Homo sapiens: one gene and its partners. The protein of the gene in region 1 purifies or fractionates together with the protein of each later gene. This does not show direct contact. Each region holds a gene or a part of one and is shown in the gene's direction. Other genes may lie near its edges.

The links.
Region 2: the proteins of KDM5A (region 1) and LIN28A purify together in Homo sapiens (co-immunoprecipitation; one large-scale study listed by IntAct). This does not show direct contact.
Region 3: the proteins of KDM5A (region 1) and HDAC2 purify together in Homo sapiens (affinity purification with western blotting; 2 studies listed by BioGRID and IntAct, with this or other methods). This does not show direct contact.
Region 4: the proteins of KDM5A (region 1) and EED purify together in Homo sapiens (affinity purification with western blotting, with the first as the bait; one study listed by BioGRID). This does not show direct contact.
Region 5: the proteins of KDM5A (region 1) and MORF4L1 purify together in Homo sapiens (affinity purification with mass spectrometry; 7 studies listed by BioGRID and IntAct, with this or other methods). This does not show direct contact.
Region 6: the proteins of KDM5A (region 1) and RBBP7 purify together in Homo sapiens (affinity purification with mass spectrometry; 4 studies listed by BioGRID and IntAct, with this or other methods). This does not show direct contact.
Region 7: the proteins of KDM5A (region 1) and CHCHD2 purify together in Homo sapiens (affinity purification with mass spectrometry; one large-scale study listed by BioGRID and IntAct). This does not show direct contact.

Annotation. Positions count from the first base shown.
Region 1 is NC_000012.12:378,970-383,103, reverse strand, and holds part of KDM5A (lysine-specific demethylase 5A), read left to right. Parts: intron 1-4,134. UniProt on the Homo sapiens protein: Histone demethylase that specifically demethylates 'Lys-4' of histone H3, thereby playing a central role in histone code. Does not demethylate histone H3 'Lys-9', H3 'Lys-27', H3 'Lys-36', H3 'Lys-79' or H4 'Lys-20'.
Region 2 is NC_000001.11:26,420,558-26,424,691, forward strand, and holds part of LIN28A (protein lin-28 homolog A), read left to right. Parts: intron 1-4,134. UniProt on the Homo sapiens protein: RNA-binding protein that inhibits processing of pre-let-7 miRNAs and regulates translation of mRNAs that control developmental timing, pluripotency and metabolism.
Region 3 is NC_000006.12:113,953,790-113,957,923, reverse strand, and holds part of HDAC2 (histone deacetylase 2), read left to right. Parts: intron 1-1,230; coding exon 1,231-1,305; intron 1,306-1,772; coding exon 1,773-1,911; intron 1,912-4,134. UniProt on the Homo sapiens protein: Histone deacetylase that catalyzes the deacetylation of lysine residues on the N-terminal part of the core histones (H2A, H2B, H3 and H4).
Region 4 is NC_000011.10:86,247,753-86,251,886, forward strand, and holds part of EED (polycomb protein EED), read left to right. Parts: intron 1-1,696; exon of another isoform or gene 1,697-1,808; intron 1,809-2,543; coding exon 2,544-2,696; intron 2,697-4,134. UniProt on the Homo sapiens protein: Polycomb group (PcG) protein. Component of the PRC2/EED-EZH2 complex, which methylates 'Lys-9' and 'Lys-27' of histone H3, leading to transcriptional repression of the affected target gene.
Region 5 is NC_000015.10:78,885,974-78,890,107, forward strand, and holds part of MORF4L1 (mortality factor 4-like protein 1), read left to right. Parts: intron 1-167; coding exon 168-254; intron 255-1,295; coding exon 1,296-1,376; intron 1,377-4,134. UniProt on the Homo sapiens protein: Component of the NuA4 histone acetyltransferase (HAT) complex which is involved in transcriptional activation of select genes principally by acetylation of nucleosomal histones H4 and H2A.
Region 6 is NC_000023.11:16,849,607-16,853,740, reverse strand, and holds part of RBBP7 (histone-binding protein RBBP7), read left to right. Parts: coding exon 1-59; intron 60-865; coding exon 866-992; intron 993-1,112; coding exon 1,113-1,190; coding exon of another isoform or gene 1,191-1,325; intron 1,326-1,618; coding exon 1,619-1,695; intron 1,696-4,134. UniProt on the Homo sapiens protein: Core histone-binding subunit that may target chromatin remodeling factors, histone acetyltransferases and histone deacetylases to their histone substrates in a manner that is regulated by nucleosomal DNA.
Region 7 is NC_000007.14:56,103,677-56,107,675, reverse strand, and holds the start of CHCHD2 (coiled-coil-helix-coiled-coil-helix domain-containing protein 2 isoform 2 precursor), read left to right. Parts: upstream 1-1,199; 5' UTR 1,200-1,262; coding exon 1,263-1,312; intron 1,313-3,200; coding exon 3,201-3,450; intron 3,451-3,999. UniProt on the Homo sapiens protein: Transcription factor. Binds to the oxygen responsive element of COX4I2 and activates its transcription under hypoxia conditions (4% oxygen), as well as normoxia conditions (20% oxygen).

The DNA of each region.
Region 1 (4,134 bases):
CAGTAGGATGACCAAACAGCTCAGAAACTTAAGGGTGAAGAGTTTAGACAAGTTTTTGCTGAAATTGTGTTAATTTTTTAACATTATATTCCCTAATGTGAAAAAAAAAAACTAACTGACCTGCAAGCTGAGATTATAATAACCTTGAGATATGTTTTTTTCTCTTTTTTTTGAGATGGAGTTTTGCTCTTGTGTCCAGGCTGGAGTGCAATGGCCTGATCTTGGCTCACTGCAACCTCTGCCTCCCAGGGTCAAGCAATTCTCCTTCCTCAGCCTCCCGAGTAGCTGGGATTACAGGCATGTGCCAACACACCAGGCTAATTTTGTATTTTTTAGTAGAGATGGGGTTTCACTATCTTAGTCAGGCTGGTCTCGAACTTCTGACCTCGTGATCCGCTCACCTTGATCTCCCAAAGTGCTGGGATTATAGATTACAGGCGTGAGCCACCGCGCCCGGCTAAAATATGTTTTGTTACTACAATAATACAAATTTATTATTGCTTAATTATCTGGGAATTTTGTAAAACAACTTCTTCTTGTGGCCTTTCATATCTTATAATTTATATACTATTTTGAAATAAAAATTTATTCTTATTTAAATTGCAGTTACTTTTAGAAGATTTCACTTTTTTTTTTTTTTGAAATGGAGTCACGCCCTTGTTGCCCAGGCTGGAGTGCAGTGGTGCCATCTCGGCTCACTGCAGCCTCCACCTCCCGGGTTCAAGTGATTCTTCTGCCTCAGCCTCCCGGGTTCAAGTGATTCTCCTGCCTTGGCCTCCCAAATACCTGGGATTACAGGTGCCTGCCACCACACCTGGCTAATTTTGTATTGTTAGTAGAGACAGGGTTTCTCCATGTTGGTTAGGCTGGACTCGAACTCCTGACCTCAGATGATCCACCCGCCTCAGCCTCCCAGAGTGTTGGGATTACAGGCGTGAGCCACCATGCGTGGCCAGGAAGATTTCACTTGTAAGGAAAAACATGAGAATAATTCGTGGCATGTGGTGGCTCATACCTATAATCCCAGCACTTTGGGAGGCTGAGGTGGAAGGATTGCTTGAACCTAGGAGTTCGAGACCAGGCTAGGCAACATAGTGAGACTCCATCTCTACAAAAAATTAAAAAATAAATAATCCTGGCATGGTGGTGGACTCCTGGAGTCCCAGCTAATCAAGAGGCTGAGGCAGGAGGATTGCTTGAGCCCAGGAGGTCAAGACTGCGGTGAGCTGTCATCACACCACTGCATTCCAGCTTGAGTGACAGAGCAAGACCCTGTTTCCAAAAAAACAGAGTAACCATATTTAAATTATCTTTTATGATACATTTTAAAATTAGTGTCAGGTCAAAATTCTCTTACTAAAAAATTTGGGAAGTACGGTCTTACGCTAAAATACAGCTTGAGACTTTTTTTAATCAGTCAGGTAATGATGTTAGTAAGTAAGCACTGTGTCAAGAATTGTCTAGTATAGTTATATGAAAACCTATGGTACTAAAGAACAAATTATGCTAAATTTGGGTGGTGGGTTTCTTCTTATAGGGAACTATTAGGATAAAAATTCATCTTAAGAATGCTTTTTTGAAATTTTTATTCAATCAAAACTTACCTACTAAGTTTTGCTGTATGATGCTGTTTAAGATTCTGAATGTGTTTGACTGTAGTATGAATAAAATACAAAAAAAATTTCAAAAATTGGCTCGGCACTGTGGCTCATGCCTGTAATCCCAGCACTTTGGAAGGCTGAGGCGGATGGATCACCTGAGGTCAGGAGTTTTTGAGACCAGCCTGGCCAACATGATGAAAACCTGTCTCAGCCGGGCACGGTGGCTCATGCCTGTAATCCCAGCACTTTGGGAGGCTGAGGCAGGAGGATCACTTGAGGTCGGGAGTTCGAGACCAACCCAACCAACATGGAGAAACCTCGTCTCTACTAAAAATACAAAATTAGCCGGACGTGGTGGCACATGCCTGTAATCTCAGCTACTTGGGAGGCCGAGGCAGGAGAATTGCTTGAACCCGGGAGGTGGAGGTTGTGGTGAGCTGAGATCACGCCATTGCACTTCAGCCTGGGCAATAAGAGCGGCACAACTCCGTCTAAAAAAAAAAAATAAAATAAAACCTATCTCTACTAATTATGCAAAAAATTAGCCAGGTGTGGTGGTGGGCACCTGTAATTCCATCTGCTCAGGAGGCTGAGGTAGGAAATCACTTGAAACCGGGAGGCAGAGGTTGCAGTGAGTTGAGATAGTACCACTGCACTCCAGCCTGGGCAACAAGAGTGAAACTGTGTCTGAAAAAAAAATTTTTTTTTCAAAAATTATTTTATCATTAATAGCAATATGTTGTAGTACTCTTTAATGAAGCTCTTTCTACTTTTTTTTTTTAGACAGAGTCTCACTCTTTTGCCCAGACTGGAGTGCAGTGGCACAATCTTGGCTCACTGCTACCTCCATCTCCCAGGTTCAACCGATTCTCATGCCTCAGCCTTCTGAGTAGCTGGGACTGGGATTAAAGGTGTGTGCCACCACACCCAGCTAATTTTTATATTTTTAGTAAAGATGGGGTTTTTACCATGTTGGCCAGGCTGGCCTTGAACTCCTGACCTGAAATGATCTGCCCACCTTGGCCTCCCAAAGTGTAGGGATTACAGGTGTGAGCCACTGTGCCCGGCCAATCTTTATCTCTATTTTATTTTCATAAATACCCTAAGGAATTTGCTAGAGTAAGTATTAATAGTATGAGTAGTAATCTATTGAAACTTTCTCTGTCAGTGATTTTCCATTTAAAAGGTAAACCTTAGGTTTAATCTGATGGTAAGTTAAATTGCATTTTTTTTTTTTTTTTGGAGACGGAGTCTCCCCCATCACCCAGGCTAGAGGCGTGATCTCGGCTCACTGCAACCTCCCACCTCCTGGGTTCAAGCGATTCCCCTCACTCAGCCTCAGAAGCAGCTGGGACTACAGGCGCACACCACCACGCCTGGCTAATGTTTGTATTTTTAGTAGAGACGGGGTTTCGTCATGTTGGCCAAGCTAGTCACGAACTCCTGATCTCAAGTGATCTCCCATCTTGGCCTCCCAAAATGGTGGGATTACAGGTGCAAGCCACCGTGCCCGGCTGCACTTTTCTGGTTTTCTAAAGTCATAGGATTTCAAAATAGGGAAGGGGCTTTTAGAGGTAACCTAGTCTGAATACTTAGTTGTTCACAATTCTCCTTATAACGGTCATCCAGAGTGTTTAACTCCATCTTGAGAAGCTGATTTCCTTTTAAGGTTCATACTACTAATAAAGTACACTTTGTTTAAATATTCAGAAAACTTATTGAAAATATGTTATGATTAAAGGTTAAGTGTGCTTATCTGACGGTTTATTGGAATCTTGTCTTTGTGGGTTTTTTTAAGTCCTCATGGACATCTCTTTCCCCAACCTGTGAGAATGTTTGCAAAACTGAGATTTAAAGCTAAAAGGCAGACAAACTTTGATTTGTAGTTATTTTAGTTTATAATACTTTGTTCCCTAAATGTCATTGTGAGATTGCTGCTTCTCACGTTAACTTTTTTCTTTTACATTGAGGTGTAACTTACAGTGTAATGCACAAATTTCAAGCGTACAGTTCAATAAATTTTCATATGTGTACACCTGTTTTGTAGCCATCACGCAGATCAAGATATATAACATTTTTATAGCACTCTAGTGGGTTGTTTCATCTCCTTTCCAGTCAATACTTCTTCACAAAGGTAATTTATTCTGACCTTTATCATTGGGTGACTATTTATTTCATTAACATGACATTTTATTCTAGCAAGAGGCTTGGGCTGAAAACTGCAGAAAATACTGAGAGTTGAGATGTTTTAAGGTTAGGTGTGCCCTTTTTTAAAAAAAAGATTATTTTTGGCTGACAGTTTGTTGGCATCTATTAAGTTTTTTTTTTATATATGATTTGAAAATACTATGATTCCCATTGCTTTTTGATGGGAAGCAAATTTTCAGTCTTCTGAGTCATTAAGTCATCAGCATGATGGTTTCCTGTTTTGATTAAATCACTTCATCTTTCTCCCTATTATTTTTGATAATAAAAAGTATTACTTGGAATGCCTGTAATTTAATAGACTTCTATATGAATAATTAGTTTTTTT
Region 2 (4,134 bases), on another chromosome or scaffold:
CGTGTCACTGCACTTCAGCATGGGCGACAGAGCAAGACTTTCTCAAAAAAAAAAAAAAAAAATTAAGTGATAAGGAATCTGTGGTTCCTTCATCTTGATGAAGAGCATGTTTCATTTAAGTTCCAGTTTGGAATATTACCCCCCAGCCACCAGCATAAAATACGAATGCTACTTACTCATGTTCCCTTGAGCCAGGACTAGGTAAGTGCACAGTGATCCCTTTTGCTTCTCCATTTTCTATGACGACTACTCCTTGTTGACATATTTGACACTGTTGTTTTACTATAATAGATGAAGCTGTAATGAAGTCTATTCTGGGTAGGGTCTGAGATGCTGTCACCTCCGCTAATGTCAAGTTGGTGGTGCAGTAAGTGGCATGATAGAATGAGCTCTGAGCTTTAAATCAGGAACTCTGGGTTCATCTGACCCTGGCTTTGCTACAGAACTAGCTGTATCAACAACTACTTTTTTTTTTTTTCTTGATGGCTGCTGGCTGTTTGCTAACTGCTTTATAAATATCAGTGTCCTTAAATTTTGGTACAAACGTGCAGTGTTCTAATAGGATTATTCCATACATATTGTTCTAAATCTTGCTTTTTGTTTTTTCTTTTAACAATATTATTTGGTGATCTTTCTCAGCTGAATGATTAAAAATCTGCCTCCTGTTTCATTAATTCATTCAAAAATGTGCTAGGCATTATTTCAGGTACCAAAATGTGGCTGTGAACAAACCAAAGACTTTACGTTGTTCTTAATGGCTGCGTGGTATTCATTATTATAGATGTACCATATTTATTCAACCATTCCCCTTCAAATACACCAGTAGGTTATTTCCAATTTTTTTAAAGCAACAATGAGATACTGAGTATATGTGTCGTGCTAAGACTTCCTACTGATAATCTACTTATATTATGTTGTGTAATTCTTTTTTCTTAGTGATTTATGGTATATTTTTGTAGTTTTACCAGTCTGATTATCTGTCTTAACTTTTCAGTATTTTTCTTAACAATGAGGTGTTTAAATCCTCTGAAATGTATTTTGCATATGTATCATACAAAGTCTGTAGGAATATGACTTCCTTTCCCAATGGATTATTAATTTTTATAGCAGCATTTATTGAATTATTTTTCTTACCTATTGATTTCTCCATATATTCTCAGATCTCTGTGATTTTCCATTTTAATCCTCTGATCCATCTGCTTGGGTTATACTGTCTTTCGGTAACATTATTTTGATATAATTTCAAACTTTAAAAAGGCTGCAAGAACAATACCCAACACTCCCACATAACCTCTACCCAGATTCATTGACTCTTAACATTTTGCCCCATTTGCTTTATCATTCTCTATCTTGCTACAGATAGTTTTTTTTTTGAAACCATAAGTTGGAGACAGTAAGCACTTTTATCTCTAAATATTTCAGTGCGTATTTCCCAAGAATGGGAATATTTATCTTTTTTTTTTTTTTCTGAGACAGGGTCTCACTCTGTCACCCAGCCTGGAGCACAGTTGTGTGATCTCTGCTCACTGCAACCTCTGCCTCCTGGGCTCAAGGGATCCTCCCACCTCAGCCTCCCCAGTAGTTGGGACTACAGGTGTGTACCACTGTGCCTGGCTCATTTTTGTATTATTTTGTAGAGATGGGTTTTTGCCATATTGCCCAAGCTGGTCTCGAATTCCTGGGCTCAAGCAATCCGCCCATCTTGGCCTCCCAAAGTGCTGGGGATTATAGGCATCAGCCACTGTGCCTGGCTGGGAATATCAATCTTACATCGTTTCAGTACACTAATCATAATCAGGAAATTAAACACTGGTACATTTATCTATATACCATATGCAAATTTTGTCAATTGTCCTATTTTTTTTTTTTTTTTCCTGTTTCAAGATCCAATCTGGAATCTTGGATTTCATTGAACTGTTCAGTTCTTCAGGCTTTGTCTTTTTATGACCTTGACATTTTTGAAGTCCTGTTTTATAGGAATGTCCCTCAGTTTGGGTTTGTCTGATGTTCCCTCAAGGTTAGATTCAGGATGTGCATTTTTAAAGTCATAAGTCCTTAGTGCATCATATTAGAAGATATGTGTGTCCCATTGTAGGCAAAGCTAAACTCAAAGAACTTGACTAGGGTATTATCTGCCAGTTTTCTCCACTGTAAACTTGCTGTTTTTCCCTTTGTAGTTGCTACACTGCTGATTATATCCAATTTAAATTGTAATATCTGGTATTCTTGGCAATTTATATTTTCCCATAGCCTTTAGAATCACTCAATCTTCCAATCCAAGATCGTGGTATGTTTTTGCATTTTTTCCTTTAATATATTTGAGTTTTTTCTTCATATAGGCTTTTTACCTTGTTAAATGTATTCTGAGGGTTTTGGTGTTTTTGTTTGTTTCTGAGAGAGGGTCTTACTCTGTCGCCCAGGCTGGAATGCAGTGGCATAATCTTGGCTCACTACAACCTCCGCCTCATGGGCTCAAGTGATGCTCCCACCTCTGCTGGGATTACAGGGGTGAGCCAGACAGAGTCTCGCTCCATCACCCAGGCTGGAGTACAGTGGTGCCATCTCTGCAACCTCTGCCTCCCGGGTTCAAACAATTGCCTCAGCCTCTCGAGTAGCTGAGATTACAGGTCTGCGCACCATACCCAGCTAATTTTTGTGTTTTTTGTAGAAATGGCATTTCGTCACGTAGGCCAGGCTGGTGTTGAACTCCTGGATTCATGTGATCTGCCCACCTCAGCCTCCCCAAAGTGCTGGGATTACAGACAGGCATGAGCCACTGTGCCTGGCCTATTCTGTTTGTTTGGTTTTTTAACATGTTTTGCAGCCATTATTATGATTTCCTTTTTTTTCTTTTTCTTTTTTTTTTTTTTTTTTTTTTTGTTGTTGTTGTTGCCCAGGCTAGAGTAGAATGGCGCAATCTTGGCTCACCGCAACCTCCGCCTCCCGGGTTCAAGTGATTCTCCTACCTCAGCCTCCCAAGTAGCTGGGATTATAGATGCCCACCACCACGCCTGGCTAATTTTGTATTTTTAGTAGTAGAGACAGGGTTTCTCCATGTTGGTCAGGCTGGTCTCAAACTCCTGACCTCAGGTGATATGCCCGCCTCGGCTTCCCAAAGTGCTGGGATTACAGGCATGAGCCATTGCGCACGGCCCATTAGTATTATTTCTTAAATCATTGAGCATCTTGAGTTTGTTTTTTTGTTTGTTGGTTTGTTTGTTTTGCGACGGAGTCTTGCTCTGTCACCCAGGCTGGAGTACAGTGGCGCGATCTCAGCTCACTGCAAGCTCTGCCTCCCAGGTTCATGCCATTCTCCTGCCTCAGCCTCCGGAGTAGCTGGGACTACAGGCACCCGCCACCACGCCTGGCTAATTTTTTGTATTTTTAGTAGAGACGGGGTTTCACCGTGTTAGCCAGGATGGTCTCGATCTCCTGACCTCGTGATCCCCTGCCTTTGCCTCCCAAAGTGCTGGGATTACAGGCGTGAGGCAGCGCACCCGGCCTTTTTTTTTTTCTTTTTTAAATAAGGCATATCATATTGCTTTGATTATAAAAATACCACTTGATTTTGTATTTTTTCCAGTATTCTACTTATTTGGTCTTTTGATGATGGTATAAATACTAAGTGAGGCATTATGTGAAAAATGAATATTTCAGTGCTTCATAGCGTGACATTTTATTTTTATTTTATTTATTTATTTCTTTGAGATGGAGTCTTGCTCTGTCAACCAGGCTAGAGTACAGTGGCATGATGGCTCACTGAAACCTCTGCCTCCGGGGTTCAAGCAACTCTCCTGCCCCAACTGCCCAAGTAGCTGGGATTACAGGCGCCCACCACCACACCCGGCTAATTTTTGTATTTTTAGTAGAGACAGGGTTTCACCATGTTGGCCAGGCTGGTCTCGAACTCTGGACCTCGTGATCCACCTGCTTCAGCCTCCCAAAGTGCTGGGGTTAAAGGCGTAAGCCACCGTGTGTGGCTGAGCCACCATGCCCAGCTATTTTTACTTTTATTTTATTTATTTATTTTTGAGACGAAGTCTTGCTGTGTTGCCCAGGCTGGAGTGCAAAGGCGCCATCTTGGCTCACTGCAACCTCTATAGTGTGACACTTTAAATTTCGTAATTTTATATT
Region 3 (4,134 bases), on another chromosome or scaffold:
TAGTATTTAATTTTTTTTTTTTCAATGAAGATTCCAACTTAGATGCAAAAGAGGCATGAGTAGCCCTTGGGCAAACAACATAACAGGATTGATTTAAAACCCACATAATAATGAGTTCTATTAAGCTTATGATCCTGGCCAGGTGTGGTGGCTCACGCCTGTAATCCCAGCACTTTGGGAGGCGGAGGTGAGTGGATTACCTGAGGTCAGGAGTTCGAAACCAGCCTGGCCAACATGGCAAAACCCTGTCTCTATTAAAAAAGTACAGAAAATTAGCTGGGTGTGGTGGTGCGCGCCTGTAATCCCACTACTCTGTAGGCTGAGACAGGAGAATTGCTTGCTTGAGCCCCAGAGGTGGAGGTTGCAGTGAGCCAAGCTCACGCCATTGCACTCCAGCCTGGGCGACAGAGTGAGACTCTGTCTCCAAAAAAAAAAAAAGATTATGATCTCTCTGTGCAGTAAGAAACTAAAATTCATTTCTTATAGTGCTTGTGACTTAAGGGTATACAAAGATATTAATATACAAAACAAGGACCCTTATTCTTGAAGAGGTTACAATTCAAGGGCATAGGGAAAGACTAAGAAAGGGTTACATACATCTGCCATATCCTTTCATTCTCTCAGTGCTAAGGAACTAAATGTGTGATCGTTTATCTGTAAATGTTTTCCTTGTTGTCTTTAGTATCCTATGTTTTGGCTCCCATGAACCTAGTTAATTCTTAGCAACTTTCAAGATCAAGATTAGCCATGGGAATAGGCAACCAGCTGTTACATCTTTTTGGTTTAGTAACTTACTGACATGCATTTCAAAGTTACAGATATTATAGGTATTTAAGGAGTTTCAAAGAAAGTAAATTATAAAGCAATTGAAGTTGCTTTTAGAATGTTAACTTATTGTAATATTAAGGGGAAAGGCCTAGAAAATTTAAGCCTGTGTTTTAATTAAATAAGAATTGTTGTACTTAGACAACTATTGAGTTCTTGTTAATAGACAGAAATATTCCACAGATAATCCTGATAAGATTTGATGATCTTTCACAGATAACACTTTAATTACCTTGGATAAAACAATAAATATATTTTAAAGTTGGAAACTTTATATTATACTGTGAAGTGTATGTTTGATGATTGCATCAAGCAAAAAAGTATTTGTGGGAAATAGTTTTTGTAAGAAAAGGCTTTCATTAATTTGCAGAATGTGTTGAAATTAATGAAATCCATCTTCCACAGTTAATGTTGGAGAAGATTGTCCAGTGTTTGATGGACTCTTTGAGTTTTGTCAGCTCTCAACTGGCGGTTCAGTTGGTAAGTGCTAATGCAATCAGATTTAAAAGTTGATCTGAACTTGGTGTGTTATCTTTCGGGTTATTTGTGTAAAACAGAAGTTTTAATGATTGTGAATTTTGATAACAAAAGGAAATCAGTATGTTTATAGTAAAGTACAATTTACTTTCAAACCTCTATGTTTTATGATTATGACTTAAACGCTTTTTAAACTTATTTTCACTTGGAGACTTCATTCATTCCCTTTGTCTTCTAGGTATCATTGTTACTACCACTTTCCACATAAACCATTATTTAATCTCAGGTTGCAGCTCTAGGAGAATATTTTTCTAAGGAGTAACTCCTATTTGTGTTATAGATGATTTCTGTTAACTTTCATGATTTTAAGCTCTTGCTTATGCATGGCATACACTTGTAGTGTTTTTGTCTCATTCTACTACTTTTTTATGATAAATGTTTAAAAGGTCTATCTTGTTTCTACTTCTTAGCTGGAGCTGTGAAGTTAAACCGACAACAGACTGATATGGCTGTTAATTGGGCTGGAGGATTACATCATGCTAAGAAATCAGAAGCATCAGGATTCTGTTACGTTAATGATATTGTGCTTGCCATCCTTGAATTACTAAAGTATGTTAATTTATATTGATACTCTTTTCAGTGATAAAGTGTTTTCATTAAAACACAATAAATAAAGTCTATGGCTTTAAAAAATATTAGGTAAACCATAGGTTGAAATAGTTAATGGTGAATTTTCTATGAATTCATTACAAAACAATGAAGAAATGCAGGAAATTTGCCCAATTCTTCAATTATTAAGACTTAGAAGTGTGGCCAGGCACTATGGCCCAGGCCTGTAATCCCTCCACTTTGGGAGGCTGAGGTGGGCGGATCTCTTGAGCCCAGGAGTTTGAGACCAGGCTAGGCAACATGGCAAAACCCCATCTCTACAGAAAAAAAATTAGCCAGATGTGGTGGCATGCATCTGTAGTCCCAACTACCCAGGAGGCTGAGGTGGGAGTACCTGAGCCCAGGAAGTTGAGTCTGCAGGAAGCCATGTTCCTGCCACTACACTCTAGCCTGGGCAACAGTGTGAGACCCTGCCTTAAAAAAAGAATTAGAAGTGTATAAAAGGCCAGTGCCGTGGCTCATGCCTGTAATCCCAGCACTTTGGGAGGACGAGGTGGGTGGATTATGAGGTCAGGGGTTTGAGACCAGCCTGACCAACATGGTGAAACCCCATCCTACTAAAAATAGAAAAATTAGCCGGGCGTGGTGGCGTGCGCCTGTAATCCCAGCTACTCAGGAGGCTGAGGTGGGAGAATTGCTTGAACCTGGGAGGTGGAGGTTGCAGTGAGCCGAGATGGCACCACTGCAGTCCAGCCTGGGCTACAGAGTGAGACTCCATCTCAAAAAAAAAAAAGAATTAGAAGTGTATATAAATGTCAAAACTCCCATTAAATACCCTTTTTTAAAAGTAGTTTGGCAATTTTCATTTTAGTTAGTTTCAACTAGTAAAAAATGACAATGACCTTGGAAGTTTATATTCTAGTATTTTGGATGTTTTAAACTGAAGACAAAAATTTGAAGCCAGTGTTAAAGGAAATTTTTTTACCTATTGAGTTAGTCTAACTGCCTAACTTCCATATCTGAATGAGGCTTTGTTCTCTACTGATGGATATAAAATTATCTCTGAGTTGTTGAAGGAGTTATTTTTCCTTATCTGTGGCTGCAGTTTGAGAGAGAGATCTATAGAGGTACTTAGGAATTTGGATGTTCGCAATGTTAGTTATTTTTTGCCATCAGTTATGACACATCTTAGCAGATTCTACTTTGTATTATACTGAGCTAGTGTTTTTTGCTTGTAGTTATTCCATGCATGCTATCCATAGAGGCTGACTTTTCAGTCAACTTAAAATTGATACTGACTCCTCAAATAAACAGTGATTGAGCAGTATCAGTGTAACATCTTGCCTGCTCATCAGGAGCAAAGGAAAATCATTTGCAATCATTTGCCTTGTTTTTTAATTGACTGTTGATGTTGGTTCCAGTGTCTTCAACTCTTTGAGCAAGTTCTTGCCCACTCAGCTAATAGTTTTAAACAACTTTAATTTGTCTGGACACATTTTTTTGGGTGGTGTAATCAAACATGATTTAATTAATTGACTTGGTGCACAGCTTTCCTTGCTTATCTAACACGTGAGCCGCTCAGAAACTTTATTTTGATCACAGCCTCATTTCTGTTTTTTTAATTTTGTGAAGAAATTTTGCTGTACTATGGTATGCTGTTTATAGTGTTATGAGAATATTCTTATGAGTGCTTAGTCTGGAAATATCAATTTACATTGTATTGTTTTATTTAGCACAGTTATGGCACCATTATATAATAAATACAATGCTTTGCCATCTAATAATATCTCACTTCACTATACTTCAAAAGGATGACATGAGAAGTCCATTTTCCCCTTATTTTGACATGAGTATACACTGGTAACAAAATGTCATGACATGGTGATTCATGTGACTCCTAAACTGCGTTTGAGTTACAACTGTGTCACTAATCTGTGGTGCTCCAAGCACCAGTTTGAAGTCATGAGAGTACCACATGTAGCCTCTGTCACAGCTAATCGATTCTGCAGTTCAAATGAAGCCATAGGTAATAAACAATTGAGCATGGCTGTCTTTCAGTAAAACTTTTTTTATGGACACTGAAATTTGAATTTTGTATAATTATCACACGTCAGAAAATACTCTTGTTTTGGTTTTGTTTTTAAACCATTTAAAAAATAATAAAAACTTCTTAGTTCAAAGCTGAAAAAAGAGGCAATTGGCCAAATTTGGGCCATGGGCCAT
Region 4 (4,134 bases), on another chromosome or scaffold:
TAGTTTTACTCTTGAGGGAGCCAAATAATGGCAAAAGGCCAAAGCAGATGGGGTGTGGGGGAATATGTTTTTGTGTTAGAGTTCAGGTAACCTGAGCAGTTACTACTGTTAATGTGAGTCAGAGAATTACAGGCACATATTTTACATTTATTGTGTTACCTGCCATTTTATTGAACTTTTTGAGATCATATGACTGCAGAGTAGTTGGCTTCTGCGAGAGTACTAATGGATGCCTTGGTAGTAAGATCAGAGGGCTGAATCTGGAGACTTGTCTTTTTGCTTAAGCAAAAGCAAAGATGCAGGGAATCCCTGTGGCAAGATGCAGGTGCAAATTACTGCCCTGTGTCTCTTTCCTCGTTGGGCAAGTGAAGATGGTAGTACCATGTCTGTTGCACAGTATCATTCTTTACTTTGAGAATGGAATAGGATGGAGGTCACCCTGTACATATATTAGACACTCAGCAAAGACTTGATTTTAGTTTAAAGATAAAATGGAAGCATGGTGGCTGTATTACATTTTCATTTGATTCCATCTTGATTTGCCTTGGGAGGAGATGGGTAAATTAAGTGATCAGAAGTAAAATAAGCAACGTGCCCTATTAACGAATGTTTTGTGTGGCCTCTGTATTGGCAGCTCAGTGTTTAGCCAGAATGTAAAGAAACTGATATATAAAAACGTCTTAGAGTTTTTAAAATTTCAGTTCTCTAGTGTTAAAAGGTAATTTTACAGAAAAAATGGCAAGTGAACACATGTTGAAACTTTTACTCAGAGGGAACCAGGCAAATGTTATACAGTAATGGTTAACCCGCAAAATCAAAACAGTACAAATTTATTAATATATGGAGTAAAGGAATGGAGAGATGAATTCCAAATGGAGACAGAAACTTTTTTTTCCCTTGAGTGGAAGGGAAGACATTTTGAACCTCTACTGTAGAGACAAAATTTACATGTCTATCAGTTATTCATAATGAAAAAAGAGTTGTGGCTGGGCGCAGTGGCTCACACCTGTAATCCCAGCACTTTAGGTGGCTGAGGTGGGAGGATCCTTTGAGTCCAGGAGTTTGAGACCAGCCTGGGCGACATCGTGAAACTCTGTCTCTACCAAAAATTAGCTGGGTGTGGTGGCCAGCTCCTGTTGTCCCAGCTACTCAGGAGGCTAAGGTGGGGGGAAGATCACTTGAGTCTGGGAGGTGGAGGTTGCGTTGAACCAAGGACAGAGTGGGTGACAGAGGGAGAGCCTGTCTCAAAAAAGAGTTGTAAGATAGCTCAAAGACATAGTGGAGGGCTATAGTCTGGTAACTTGGAAGGATGTGCTATATAGATAATGCATAGTTTTCCACTGAGATACAGAATTGTTTTCTACGTTTGATGTTAATTATGTGAATACAACTGAAAAGGTGGAGAGAAAAAGAGATTAAAATACCACATTTTCTATTTCTGTAAAGACTAATGATATTCACATTAAATTACAATTCAAATATTTGTTGAGTACGTACTGCTTGCTACCCGCCTATTATTTCATTTATGATATTTTTTAACCTTCTATATAAAACCAACTTTAGGAAGCAATAATTTAAAAATAGCCCCTAAAGCAGTGTTTCCTAGGCTGTTTAATAGGCATTTCATGGAAAAAAAAAAAAAAAAAGGCTTCCTCTGGAATGTATTTTAGAACTGCTGCCCTAAGATCCTAGATTAAATAAATCTTTTCTTTCCAAAGGAGACATTGGAATCTGTAATCAGGAGGTAGTGGAATCCTCTTCTGAGATTAGAGAGCTGAGATTAGAGGGCCACTCGTGTGTGAGATAAGGTATGAATTAGGAGAATTTTCAAGGTTTCCTGCAGTCATTTCTTTTTTTTGGAAGGATTTACTTTAATTGTGATTGAGAGTCTCTGGAGTTCTGATTTATGAGTATTATTACTTTAGAACAATGAGACAGTTTTAACTTGTAAATAGCATAGAATATATGTAGCACTTTAAAAAAATTCTAAATGTTTTGCGTTATAAGCAGAATTTGAATAACAGGATTTTAAAAAGTGACATCTAATGTAGAAGCCATTAACACTCCTGCTTCAAACGGCTCCCCAGCTCCATGCTCCAGACTGAGCAGCAGTCAAATACATTATGAAGACATATACATCAGTCAGATTTAAGAGTCACAGCTTTGGGATGGAATTACCAGCCAAGAGACCAGTTAGGCTTTTTCAGCACTTCCAGTACCTTTTGTAAAGAGCTGTAAAGATTCACTGATACAGTGTATTAAAGTGACTGGAACAGACCAGTGCCTTATTAAAGACAGTATTACTCTTCCATTATTCTCATTAGTATTTATTTCATTTTCATTTTTGTTGAAATATAAAATATCTACAAACCTTCTAACCTGTAGCTGGATTATGTTTATCCTTATGTGGAGGCAAGAATACATTTTTTTCTTCTTGTAGAAATTATTTCTCTTAGGTCAGTCAGCATCTTCCCAGTAGAGTTATTTACTGCTAAAAACAGTATTGCTGTTTCATGTAATTTTTCCTCATTTACTGCTTACAGGATGACGCTGTCAGTATAGAAAGTGGTACAAACACTGAACGCCCTGATACACCTACAAACACGCCAAATGCACCTGGAAGGAAAAGTTGGGGAAAGGGAAAATGGAAGTCAAAGAAATGCAAATATTCTTTCAAATGTGTAAATAGTCTCAAGGTATGTGCAAAAAAAGATCCTTTGGGCTGAATGCTAGGCTTCAGAAATTATTTCTCTGTGGCACGCATTTCGTACTCAGGATACTCTGTCAAGTTGTAAATATTTTAAAGTTACAATGTTTTCTGAAGGGTTTTTTTTTTTGTAGTTCAGACTGCGTATCTATTTTAGTCCATCCCATGTTTAGTTTTTTGGTTTTGTTTTTTGTTGTTTTAATTTAAATATGTGACAGTGTTGCAGGATGTTTTTGCTTTATTGTTTGCATTCAAATTATAAGATTTGGGTAACTATTACTCTTTATATTTTAGTAAAACTTAAAAAACATAAGCCACTTCTGGCATCAGTTTTTAAAAAGAACTGAATGTAACCCATTAACTTTGACTAAGTATAAATTGAAACAGATGTTTTACTTTGTACAGTTTCTGTCCTTTGTTTTATTTATAACTGTTTTCAAAGAAAAAGGTGTAAAAAATTTTTAAACTTTTTAATATTAAATATTTAGGGAAAAGGGGGTTTTGGTTATTTAAATTAATCTGTCCCCAATAGTATTTTTATTTACTTTATAAAAGGGGTTACTGGTGTTTAAGATATTTTCTTTTATATATGTCCAGTTTGTTTTTTAAATGTGAGGCTATTTTTTTCTATACTGAGGAAAAATGTGTATTATCTCATACATATGTAAGTTAAAACCTTTTCTAAATATCCAAATATATTTTTTATAAGTAAAGTTTTGGGAAAGCATAAGAAGCTATGACTATGACATTTTTCTGTCTGTGTAGCAAAAATTCGATGCTCAGTGTGTCAGATTTTGCTCCTGTAAAAGGAGAGAAATTAATCTCAGCATATTTTTTAAAAGTCAATTATAGTTTCATGTGCATATTTATTTACATTAACGTACTACTTTTAGGTACTGTACCTGGAAGATGTTTTTAGCTGCCTTTTATACTTAAGGCAGTATTTCAAAATCCTAAAGCTGTGGCTTTTCAAATGATGAGAAAACGAAAGACGTACTTTAAAAGTGAAAACAGTGCCTTAAACTGCATCTGAAAGTCAGTGTTAAATGCCAGAAGTTGGCCAGTAAAATCCTAAAGCTGAAAAATAACTTTGTGAACAAAAGTGCATAATTGTTCTTTGTACATCTCCTATAGCCTCCTGGTAACTGTGCAGTTACAGTTTATTTCTTCCCCTAGTCCCCAGTGTTCAGATATTCTCATTCTGACTAACAGAAAACAGTGATTTGAATGGAGTCTGCTATGCTTCACTTTACAAGGGAAAAATTTAGCCTTATAAAATTTAGTGAATGCCAGAGAAGCTATTAAGGCCATCTGTTAATTTCCTGTTTCAGAAAAATAAATTGTGTCCTTTTGTATCCACCAAAATTATCCAGTTTATTGTGATTCAGAATATGATTGGCTTATTAAGAAAAAGGCAAATATTATAA
Region 5 (4,134 bases), on another chromosome or scaffold:
TTTTTACAGAACAGACTTCCATTAGATCTTCATTTTAGTTGAGAATATATTTGTAGTGCCAGTTCATCAAATTACTTAAGAGAAATCCAGTCTTGCCTCTTGATCTCAGAAAATTAGTTGGAGAACAGAGTATTTTTGAGTTAAATTTTAACTTTCCTCTTTTTCAGTTGGGATGAATGGGTTCCGGAGAGCAGAGTACTCAAATACGTGGACACCAATTTGCAGAAACAGCGAGAACTTCAAAAAGCCAATCAGTAAGTTTGTTTTGTGAACTGAATATTAAGGAGAAATGCCTGTAGATTAATTCTGGACATGGAATGAACAATGGAGATCATGTTGGCTGCCCTGCCTATAAAATGATTCCTGGTACCTTTCAGCTGCTGTGTTACAGCTTTGACTTCAAGCGATCAAGCCATATCTAGGTAAAGGAAGTAGCATACCTGCCATTACTTGAGCTTATCTTAGACCTAGGTAGAAAACAGCAGAATGTTGTTGGAAATTGCTATAGGTATGAACTCACTGATAAAAATCTTTATTTTCGGGGGCTCTGGAAGACAAATTTGGTGGGGAAACAAGCAAACGAGGCATTTCCTATTCTGCTTTTCATCTCTGAAAGCACGGGAAAAGGGACCCTGAAAGACTCTATGATTTATAGGGTAATCTCAAAGTTGAAATGTATTTTTAAAAAAATTAAAACGATGGCTGGGCGCAGTGGCTCACGCCTGTAATCCCAGCATTTTGGGAGGCCAAGGCGGGTGGATCACGAGGTCAGGAGATCAAGACCATCCTGGCTAACACGGTGAAACCCCGTCTCTACTAAAAATTCAAAAAATTAGCCGGGCATGGTGGCGGGCGCCTGTAGTCCCAGCTACTCCGGAGGCTGAGGCAGGAGAATGGCGTGAACCCGGGAGGCAGAGCTTTCAGTGAGCGGAGATCGCGCCACTGCAGTGTAGCCTGGGCAGCACAGTGAAACTCTGTCTCAAAAAAAAAAAAAAAAAGAATTAAAATGGTAATGGGAACAAATAAAACACTGGGATTAGTGAATTCCAAAACAAATGGAATTTTCAATGCTATGAGAACAGTCTATTACAGTCACTTTTTATTACATTGATTTTAATTGAGCCTTTTGCTGTTTCTTGAGTGTTTTGTTTGATTTTTGTGGAAATATCTCTGTCCAACTTGTTAAAAACTTGTTGCCAGAATTTGAATGTAAATTCCTAATGGAATCAGGCTGACAATTTTTTTTTCACATAAATGCTCATTTTATGTTGACATTACTGAAATTATTTTTGAAGGGAGCAGTATGCAGAGGGGAAGATGAGAGGGGCTGCCCCAGGAAAGAAGACATCTGGTCTGCAACAGAAAAATGTTGAAGTGTAAGAAGCTCTTTGTTTTGATTTTGCATACTATATGTGAAGATAATATTTTATGTTCATTGTGTGTTAGACTGTGTTGAAGTGGAAACTTTGGAACATTGTTGGAACCAGTAAGAATCCCATTCCTCAGGTATCAGGTCGTTAAAGTAGTTTAAAATAACGTATTCCTTAATTTTCCTCAGCAGGTTCCCCCTCCCTTTAACTTGTGTGTATAAATATATGTGTGTGATGTTTTCTCTTACAAAGATAGTACTAGTGGTTATAAGTTTTGAGATAACTTTTGGCAAGCCTTTTCAAACCTAAAAAGCAAGTGCTGGCAAGTGCTAAAAATACATACGAATTAACCTCCACTTTGGTGAAACTCATGGTAAGAATATGTGAGAAGTTAAGGTTTCAAATAACTGCCCTCCTCATCCCCACCCCTAAGAAAACCATTGCTTTTTTTTGAGACAGAGTTTCCCTCTTGTTGCCCAGGCTGGAGTGCAGTGGTGTGATCTGTGCTCACTGCAACCTCTGCCTCCTGGGTTCAAGTGATTCTCCTGCCTCAGCCTCCCAAGTAGCGGGGATTACAGGCGTGTGCCACCACGCCTGGCTGATTTTTGTATTTTTAGTAGAGATGGAGTTTCACCATGTTGGTCAGGCTGACCTCCTGACCTCAGGTGATCCACCTGCCTTGGCCTCCCAGAGTGCTGGGATTATAGGCGTGAGCCACTGCTCCTGGCACAAAACCATTACTTCTTGTTAACTCTAGATTTTAGAACATCTGATAAGAAGCCTAGAGTGAGAAAGTCATGTGCATGCATACATTTTGTATGTTTAAAGTTTATGTAGGACGGTGCGGTGGCTCACACCTGTAATCCCCCTACTTTGTTTGGGAGGCTGAGGCAGGAGAATGGTTTGAGCCCAGGAGTTTGAGACCAACTTGGGCAACATCGGGAGCCTCTGGTTCTACAGAAAAATAAAAAAATTAGCTCGGGGGTGGTGGCACATGCTTGTAGTCCCACCTATTCAGGAGGCCGATGTGGGAGGGTCACTTGAGCCCAGGAGGTCAAGGCTGCACTTTAGTCTTGGCGACTGAGTGAGATCCTGTCTTTTAAAAAGAAAAAAAAAAAAGTTGATGTACCTGAAAGTGGATGACAAGAGTGGTAACTTAATAAGTATTCTTAAGTATTTGTAATAATAAAAACAAAAATTATAACTTTTATTAAGAGGTCATTTTATTTCCTACCAGAATTACTGATCTGATTTTTCTACTTAAAAGTAAGGTGTTACACCCAGTGCTTTGGGAGGCTGAGGTGGGAGGGATTGCTTGAGGCCAGGAGTTCTAGGCTGCAGTGATCTGTGATTGCACCACTGCGCTCCAGCCTCTTAAAAAAAGTAAGGTGTTACTAATGAAGGTATTTAGTATTTAATGCATTTGGAGATGTTTGAAGCTTTTTATTTTTTTTTAAACTCTTTTTGGTGAGAAGATAATTGGCAAGGATTAAGTGTGTTACTATTTGAGGATTGTTCATAGTTTTAATAAGTGGTAACATGTTTTCATGATCTGGTTCTTTGGAAAACTGTAGTGTAGTATTTCATTAGGATTTAATAGTAATTATGTCTTAAAAGGCAGTAATTTTCTCTATATAGAAAAGATTTTTATCAAAAGTAATAGTTCATAACTAATTCTTTATCACTGTGCTAAGTTATTATATAGAAATCTTAAGTGGTAGTATGCCCATAAGTTATTTGCATTTGAATACAGCATTGTGCAGTCTCCACTACAAAAATAATGGCTGAGTAAATATATGAAGTAAAGCTTTAAAATTTAAATTTCCCATTCTTGAACAGTAGAAGCCTCTTCAAACTGGCTTCTGAGTCTTTTGAAGGATCCTCAGTCTAGACGTTTGAAGCATGAATGTCAAGCTCTTACTACTAGGACTTATTGAAGTGTATGGGTTGAATATCCCTTATCTGAAGTGTTTCGGACCAGAAGCGTTTCAGATTCCAGACTTTTTTTGGATTTTGAAATGTTTGCGTTATACTTACCTGTTGAACATCCCAAATCCAAAATGCTTCAATGAGCATTTCCTTTGAATGTCATGTTGGCTCAGAAAATTGGGATTTTTGGAGCATTTTGGCTTTGGGATGCTGAACTCATCTATATTTTATAGATCTTTTACTTTAGAGTTGAGATCACCTGTCAGTATTTTAGTTTTATATTACAGAGGTGAGTGGGTAAAGGATTGAGTGTGAAGACTATTGGTTTCTCTTGGTCTCCACATATTGACACGTGCAAGTAAAGTTCATGGTTGACTTTGACCGAGAAATACAGTCCAACAGATTTTTACAAAACTAACAGACAAGAGAAAACCTATACACAGATTTTTGTGTTTATATCCAAACATAAGTTAATTTGAATTGTCAAACCTTAAGACCTAAATTAAATGAATATATTTAATTAATAACATTTATAAGTATTATTTAAAGCTACAGAAAAGTAAAAAATCCAGGTGTTATAGTATCTTTCCATCGAAAGTAATCCATAATCATGGGCTCTATAAACTGTTTCCTTTGTGGTCTAGAAATAATAATGTAAAAAAGCAAAATTAGGCCAGGCATGGTGGCACACGCCTGTAATAGCATTTTGGAAGGCCGAGGTATGCGAATCACTTGAGGTCAGGAGTTTGAGACCAGCCTGGCCAACATGGTGAAATCCCGTCTCTTAAAATACAAAAATGAGCTGGGAGTGGTGGTGGGTGCCTATGGTCCCAGC
Region 6 (4,134 bases), on another chromosome or scaffold:
TGGCACCTGCTGCACGAGTCATTGTTTGGATCTGTTGCTGATGATCAGAAACTTATGATGTAAGGTGGAAAATTCAGTGGGATCTTGTTAAATGGGTGACCTGAATGACCATCAGTGATTGCTGCAGGCTGTAGTTTGATTTTTTTTTTTTAAGTTATGGCTTTAAAAAACAGCTTTAGGTAGCTTACTCCTGTAATCTCAATACCTTGGGAAGCTGAGGCAGGAGGATTGCTTGAGACCAGGAGTGTGAGACTCTACACAAAATTTAAAAACAAAAAATTAGTTGGGTATGGTGGTGTGCACCTGTAGTCCTAGCTACTCAGGAGGCTGAAGTGGGAGGATCACTTATTATTTAGAAAAAAAGAAAACTAGGTATGGACATGTGAAGGAACATACTTGGTGTGGTGGTAAATATCAAAATTGAGATCCAGAGTGATGCCAGTTGGAGGTCGAGGAGGAAAATGATTTCATCAAGGTGTGGCCACAGGGCTTCATTCACTTATAATCTTATAAAGAAATACCTGAGGCAAATGTGACAAAATACTGGGCATTTGTCAAAACTAGTTTTAGGTATCAGATTGTGACATTATTCTCTACATAGTCTGTATTTTGTGTACACTTGAAATAGTTGGTAATTAAAATAGGAATCTAATTTAAAAAACAGGACTAACAGCCCTAGCTTGTTCTCTGTAGGTTTCGAATGTATCATTTAGTGGTCGAGGTCTGAATCACCAGCTGTGTGGTTGGTTTCTTCATGAAGGGGAGCACATAGTGGAGCTAGTTGTGGAGTGCAGTGACAGTGATGTGAGGCCGAATGTGAGTGTGTCATCCCTGGGTGCCGTGTGCCTTTACCTTTGTGTTTTAGATGGGACACCAGGTCCAATACCACCTCCAAGCCGAGTCACTTGGTGGATGCGCACACTGCCGAAGTCAACTGCCTCTCATTCAATCCCTACAGCGAATTTATTCTAGCCACCGGCTCTGCGGATAAGGTTTCGAAGTTTTTGCATTATTTGGTGTTTATAAAACCCAGTTCTCTTGTGCCTTAATCAGATATTTGAAAATTCTTAGGTAAAGCATAGAAATCATTTTCACTTGTTATTTTTCTTTAGACCGTAGCTTTATGGGATCTGCGTAACTTAAAATTAAAACTCCATACCTTCGAATCTCATAAAGATGAAATTTTCCAGGTATGTGACAGTTTTCTGGTGTCTGTATGTCAGGAAATGAAATCCAGGGATTCATCAGTTAAGCTATACCAGACTCGTGGGTCCACTATTGAAAAAAATGTCTTGTACGTGGTGTTACATGGAGATGCTCATAGGGTAAGGTACACCTTGTTGAAGAATTAAAAAGCTTCTGGGATGGTTATGGGGTCGAATAAATTTATTGAGATCCCAGGCTGAGTTCCTCAGTGCTGGGGAGTGCAGCCTTCCTGAGGACAGGATGGAGCTGAGCCCTTGCAGAGCACTTGAAAGTCGGGGACAAGAGAGTGAGGCCATCAGGCCAAGGATAAGATAATAGAGTGCAAGATGGGAAAATATCAGATTAGAACAACAGCCACAAACCTAGCAGCGGATGATTCTTTAAATACATTTTCAAAATTATCTATTACTAGGTCCACTGGTCTCCACATAATGAAACTATTCTGGCTTCAAGTGGTACTGACCGCCGCCTGAATGTGTGGGATTTAAGGTAACTTACAGTCCTGTGACAAGATACTGCATAAATGTGCCTATCTGGCAAGTTACATAGTCATTCATAAACTAGAAAAGCAATTTGGTAATCCCCCCTTCAAGAAACCTAATATTAAAGAAACTTCTAAGCATCTTCCTAAAGAGCCTTTGTTCTGTAAAATAGAAGTGAAGCAGCAAATGGACCATAAAATAAATTTCTCTAGTGTGAGTTTTGTCTCTTAATATTCAGGCATGAAGGTGTATGTGTCTGTTTTTGTTTTTGCATTCAAATGACTGTATTTAAAACACACTTGATATAGAGAAATCAAGATGTTAGCTGTTTTATGTCTCATTGGATCTCAGTACGTGTAGGCAGGACTGTTTTTTCTGGGTTTTTGTACCATTTACTTTGCTTTCAGTGATTCATTCTGCAGATGTGCACTCCTGCTGTGGGTTGTGTAACTGCTGGGGAGACCTTTGTGAAGGGGACAAGGACAGCCCAAGCTGTCAGAGAGCTTATGTTCTCTGGGGCCTCATTGTATAAAGAGTTTCTGCCAATTTTTAAAGTTCCTTTAGTTCAGACTTGCTGTTCTAAGAATTTTAGACTCCTTTACTTGTTCATCTGAGCCTTTAGAACTTAATAAAGTTGCTCAGTTACATACTCCTCCGTAAGATGTCATCTTAAGTTTAAATCATAAAATTACCAAAAAATAACTTATTTCCTGCTTGTATTAAATATATTGCTTTGAAGTGGACTGAATTTAGTACAGGTTGAATATCCCTTATCCAAAATACTTGGAATAAGAAGTGTTTGGGGTTTTGGAATTTTTAGGATTTTGGAATATTTGCATTATACTTTATTGGTTGAGCATCTCAAATCTGAACTGAAAGTCCAAATTCTTCTTCTTTTTCTTTTCTTTTCTTTTCTTTTTTTTTTTTTGGAGACTGAATCTTGCTCTGTCACGCAGGCTGGAGTGCAGTGGCGCAATCTTGGCTCACTGTAACCTCTGCCTCCCAGGTTCAAGCAGTTCTCATGCCTCAGCTTCCCGAGGAGGTGGGTCTACAGGTCTACAAGCACTGCCACAGCCACCATGCCCGGTTTTGTATTTTTTACTAAAAAAATAAATAAATAAAGGCAGAGCTTTGCCATATTGGCCAGGCTGGTCTCAGACTCCTGACCCCACGTGATTCTCCCGCCTTGGCCTCCCAAAGTGCTGGGATTACAGGCATGAGCCATTGCACTCGGTGTGAAAGTCCAAATTCTGAGTGTCACGTGGTGCTTAAAGTTTTGGATTTTGGAACATTTTGGATTTGGGATGCTCAACCTATATATTAAAACCAAGGCTGCCTTAATTATAGAGGCAGTAATCCTCAGTATATAGAAGAGACGCTGGAGAATAAAATGCTTGTATGTAAAACTTAAAATAGCTAATGTTCAGGGTTCTGATGGAGCAAACTCTTGCCGTGATAAATACTTGAAGATGTAGAAAACCTTTAAAGCAGACAGTTGGGGGCATTGTATTTGATTTAAAAACAATTTTAGTAGTAAAATAAAACCTAAATCAAAACTATAAAGAGGTTGTATGAAGCGTACAGCAAGGTTTGGAAGTCTGATGCCCTGGCAACTGAATTGCCCCTGAAGGTGCCAATAATTTGTGAGCATTGTGTGTAATTTCTTCTTAGAATTATTTCTTAGCTTGTTTAATATTAAAATTACATTAGATAGGGGGCCAGGCATGGCGGCTCATGTCTATAATCCCAGTACTTTGTGAGGCTGAAGCAGGAGGATCGCTTGAACCCAGGAGTTCGAGACCAACCTGGGCAACATAGACCCTGTCTCTACAAAAAATTGTAAAATTACATTAGATAAAATTTGGGATTAAAATGGTGAGTTTTAGCAACTATACTGACAGGTGGAAGATAAGTATTGTCTAGCAATCCCACAGGTTTGAGATTGTTTGGTTAGTTTTGTGGGAAGGAAAAAAATGTCTCACTTGGAGGGCTGGGTTTTGTTTTTTAGTAGTTGTTACTACTAAAGTCTTTGGGCTAGGTATAAGGACAGGGCTGATATTGATACATAAAGAGTGATTTCACTGTTGAGCACTGGCAAATTCTACAAATTGAAGTTTTTAAGAGAAAAACCATAAAAACATTTCCTTGGCTTACACATTTCTCAAAGTTTTATTGCCATATCTTTAGACAGATCTATAGTACTGATTTGTAATTATATTTTACTCCTGGGATGCAACAGGCTTTGAGTGAAGTATAGGGATTGCACATCAGTTTATGTGTAGATTTTTTTAACTATACATTTCACCTTTTAATTCTAAGGCAATAAACAGTTAATGAAGGGATTTTGAGTTAATGTTTATTATTGACAATAATTCCTCATTCTGCAACTTCAATTATGAACAACTCTAACTTATTTCCAGAAAGTAAACATCCCGTCCTTACACCA
Region 7 (3,999 bases), on another chromosome or scaffold:
ACCTGAGGTCAAGAGCTCAAGACCAGCCTGACCAACATGGCGAAACCCTGTTTCTACTAAAATAAAAAATTAGCCAGGCGGGTTGACGTGCGCCTGTAATCCCAACTACTCGGAAGGCTGAGGCAGGAGAATCGCTTGAATCCGGGAGGCGGAGGCTGCAGTGAGCTGAGAACGCGCCACTGCACTCCAGCCTGGGCGACAGAGCCAGACTCCGTCTCAAAAAAAAAAAAAAAGCATTTCACACCAAGTATCACTAAAGCACAGATCCTTGGGGCCTTTGCAATTGCTGTTCTCTCTTCCTGTAGTGTTCTTATCTTCATAAACACATGGCTTGCTTCCCCACCTCTTCAAGGGCTCCGTTCAAATGACTCCCCCCCGCCCCGCCTAACCTCTAATTTCCAGTCTCCTTCCTCTCTTTTCATGTCACCACCACCTGATTTACGTAGGCGTTTGTGTCTCCCCTCCTTGAAACTTAACTTCGTGAAGGTAGAATCTTATCTGATTTGGTGCAGTATCTCCATAACCCAGTTAGACAGTAAATTTTTGTTGAATTTACCAGTGTATGGTTACTGTCCCAATTCTGGACACAAATTCTATAATACATATGAAAAGGAGCTGAAAATATATAGTAATACATAAATGTAAAACATTATTGCTGCCTGAATTTAACTTTTGCTGACTGGATCCACAGACAAGAAAGAGAAATACCAAATACAACTAATTCAACTCTGTTTATTTTTGACGAAACCGATTTCTTTCATTCAGTTCATACTACGCGTCCACACTGTGCCTCCAAAAATATTTGCCCTTATAACTGAATGCTCAGAAAGGCTAAGAAATCTGCCCAAGGTCCCCTGGCAATCCAGCCAGAGATGTGAGTCACTCTTAAGGTTGGATTTAATACAAATGTTTGAAGGACGGAGCGACAGGCCAGCTGCCCTAGGGAAGCAAAATGCTAAGTGCTCTGATGCGAGGACCGGAGGACAAGGTTCGCGGATGAACCACAGGAACTTCCGGGTTTTAAAGATCCTGGCGCCAAGTTCAGGGCGTTGACCGCGAAGGACGAGGCGTCCCCGTGACGTCCTGCTCTTCCAATGAACTTCAGGCCTGCGGAGACGACGGAGAACGGAAGTTCTCTGCCTGTGTGCTGGTTGGTTGCGCGTTGAGGCCAGCCCCGCCTCCCATCTTCCGGTCTCCTCAGAAGTCGCTTAGCTCTTCGGTGGTTGTCCCACGTCCGGAGGCCTAGCCGTCGCTTACCTAGGATGCCGCGTGGAAGCCGAAGCCGCACCTCCCGCATGGCCCCTCCGGCCAGGTGAGACCATCGCAGGGTTTGAGACCAAAGCGCGGCCGTCCGGACTCTACTGGGGCAATGACGCAGAGGGAGGCCGCGGGCGGGGGTGAACTAAGGTCGGCTGCGGCGTGGGCTCGCCTCTGCCAGGCGGGGGTAGATTGAACGTAAAGCCTATGTTAGGGGAGTGTGGGGAGGGAATTCACTTACGGAAAAAGCTTCCTATCCAAACAACGGGAAAGGCATAACGTTATGGCCAGGTGGTAGGAAGGCATAAATTTTGACCTAGCTTGATTTCGGGGAAAAGAGCACCCAAGGAAATAATCCGGAAATGGTCAGAGGGAGCGTGATACATATGAAGATTTTTAAATACGTGCAGGACATAATTAGTCTTTTGTTATTTGAGAAGGGGTCTCGAAATTGTTGAAAGCATCTGAACGTTGAACAGATGAGGAATAGTTGAAGTTGCTTTTGGTATAATAGTTCAGACGAGTCACTTTGGCCAGTCTTGTTTTGTAATGTGTAAAATGAAGGAATTGGACTAGATTATTTCCCCAGTTGACCATCTTTAAGTCCTAATTAGAATGTTTATTTATTTATATTTTGAGTCAGAGTCTAACTCAGGCTGTAGTGCAGTGACGTAATTATGGCTAACTGCAGCCTTGACTTCCTGGGCTCAAGCTATTCTACCACGTCAGCCTCCAGAGTAACTGGGACTACAGGCATGCGCCACCTGTGCACCACACTTGGCGACTTTATTCTATTTTATATTTTAGCAGAGACAGGGTCTCATTATGTGGCCCTGGCTGGTCTCAAAGTCCTGGCCTCAAATGATCCTTTCGCCTCCACTTCCCTAATCACTGGGATTACAGGCAAGAGCCACCACTCCGCAGCCTATGTTAATTATTTGATCCGTCAATAAAATGTAAACTCCATGAATGCAGAGATTTTTGTCTCTTGTTCACAGTTACATTACCAGCGCCTTGTAGTTACCTAATACTTGAATGAATGAATCCTGTAAGAATCTTTCTAACTTTTAGTAGTCTGTATTTCTTATGACATGTTGGATATGTCTTTAAAGATACTGTGGGCTATCCGAATACATGGAAATTGTTGCAAAGAAGCAGAAAAAACTAGTATGTCCTAGGCTATTACTATTATAAGAAAAGATTAAAGTGGCCGGGCGTGGTGGCTCATGCCTGTAATCCCAACACTTTGGGAGGTCGAGGCGGGTGGATCACTTGAGGTCAGGAGTTCGAGACGAGCCTGGCCAACATGGTGAAACTCCGTCTCTACTAGAAATACAAAAATTAGCTAGGTGTGGTGGTGCGCGCCTGTAATCCCAGCTACTTGGGAAGCGGAGGCAGAAGAATCGGTTGAACCCAGGAGGCAGAGGTTGCAGTGAGATTGGATCGTGACACTGCACTCCAGTCTGGGCATCAGAGTGAGGCCCTGTCTCAAAAAAAAAAAAAAAATTAGGCCGTGCGTGGTGGTTCACACCTGTAATCCCAGCACTTTGGGAGTCCGAGGCGGGTGGATCACCTGAGGTCAGGAGCTGGAGACCAGCCATGGTCACCATAGTGAAACCTCGTCTCAACTAAAAATACAAAAAATTAGCCGGAGGTGGTCGCGGGTGCCTGTAATCCCAGCTACTCGGAAGGCTGAGGCAAGAGAATCGCTTGAGTCTGGGAGGTGGAGGTTGCAGTGAGCTGAGATTGCACCATTGCACTCCAGCCTGGGCAACAAGAGCGAAGCTCCATCTCAAAAAAAAAAAAATTGAAGAGAGAAAATGATGTAAATAATTTGAAATGAAAATCTTGAGGTCCATTTTAATATGTAAGTTATTTTAAGTTGACAATTTCCAAAACTGGTTGGAATTGGGAACTTGATGTTTTTTTCTTTTCTTTCACAGCCGGGCCCCTCAGATGAGAGCTGCACCCAGGCCAGCACCAGTCGCTCAGCCACCAGCAGCGGCACCCCCATCTGCAGTTGGCTCTTCTGCTGCTGCGCCCCGGCAGCCAGGTCTGATGGCCCAGATGGCAACCACTGCAGCTGGCGTGGCTGTGGGCTCTGCTGTGGGGCACACATTGGGTCACGCCATTACTGGGGGCTTCAGTGGAGGAAGTAATGCTGAGCCTGCGAGGCCTGACATCACTTACCAGGTGGGAATTTAGGCAGCATTTCCCTTCCATGGGTGGATTTTATGAGAAAAGCCAGACGTTTGTAAGTTCCTTAAGTGTAGGAATTGTCTTTGATTTTAGAACCCACTGTGCTGTTAATAGACAATGGGTTTTAAAGCCACATTTGGCCGTTGAGTTACTGCCTTAGGCCAGCACCAACAAGTACTGTACAAATTGTGTTTCTTCCCAAGGAGGAGACTTACAACAGTCCACTTGACTCACTGTAAAACAACCACTTTTCCCTTTGAATATTTCATCCCAGTGACACTTCCTACTAATCTTGTCTTGATCTTAGTTAACAAATCAAAAATCTCGCATAGCTGTGTGTTCTTTTACGTGATGTTTGCCATTACCCATCTTTCTGATGTGTGTGGGCTTTCTAGTCTAATGAGCATAGGTGTGTATACTCTTGTATTTCCGGTGTGCTTGAAACTGCTCCATCCAGTTTTCTATAATAGTACCATTTTTCCTCCCTGAAGCTTCAGTAAACCATTTAGTCTTGATAACAAGATAATAATTCCACTTTATTTG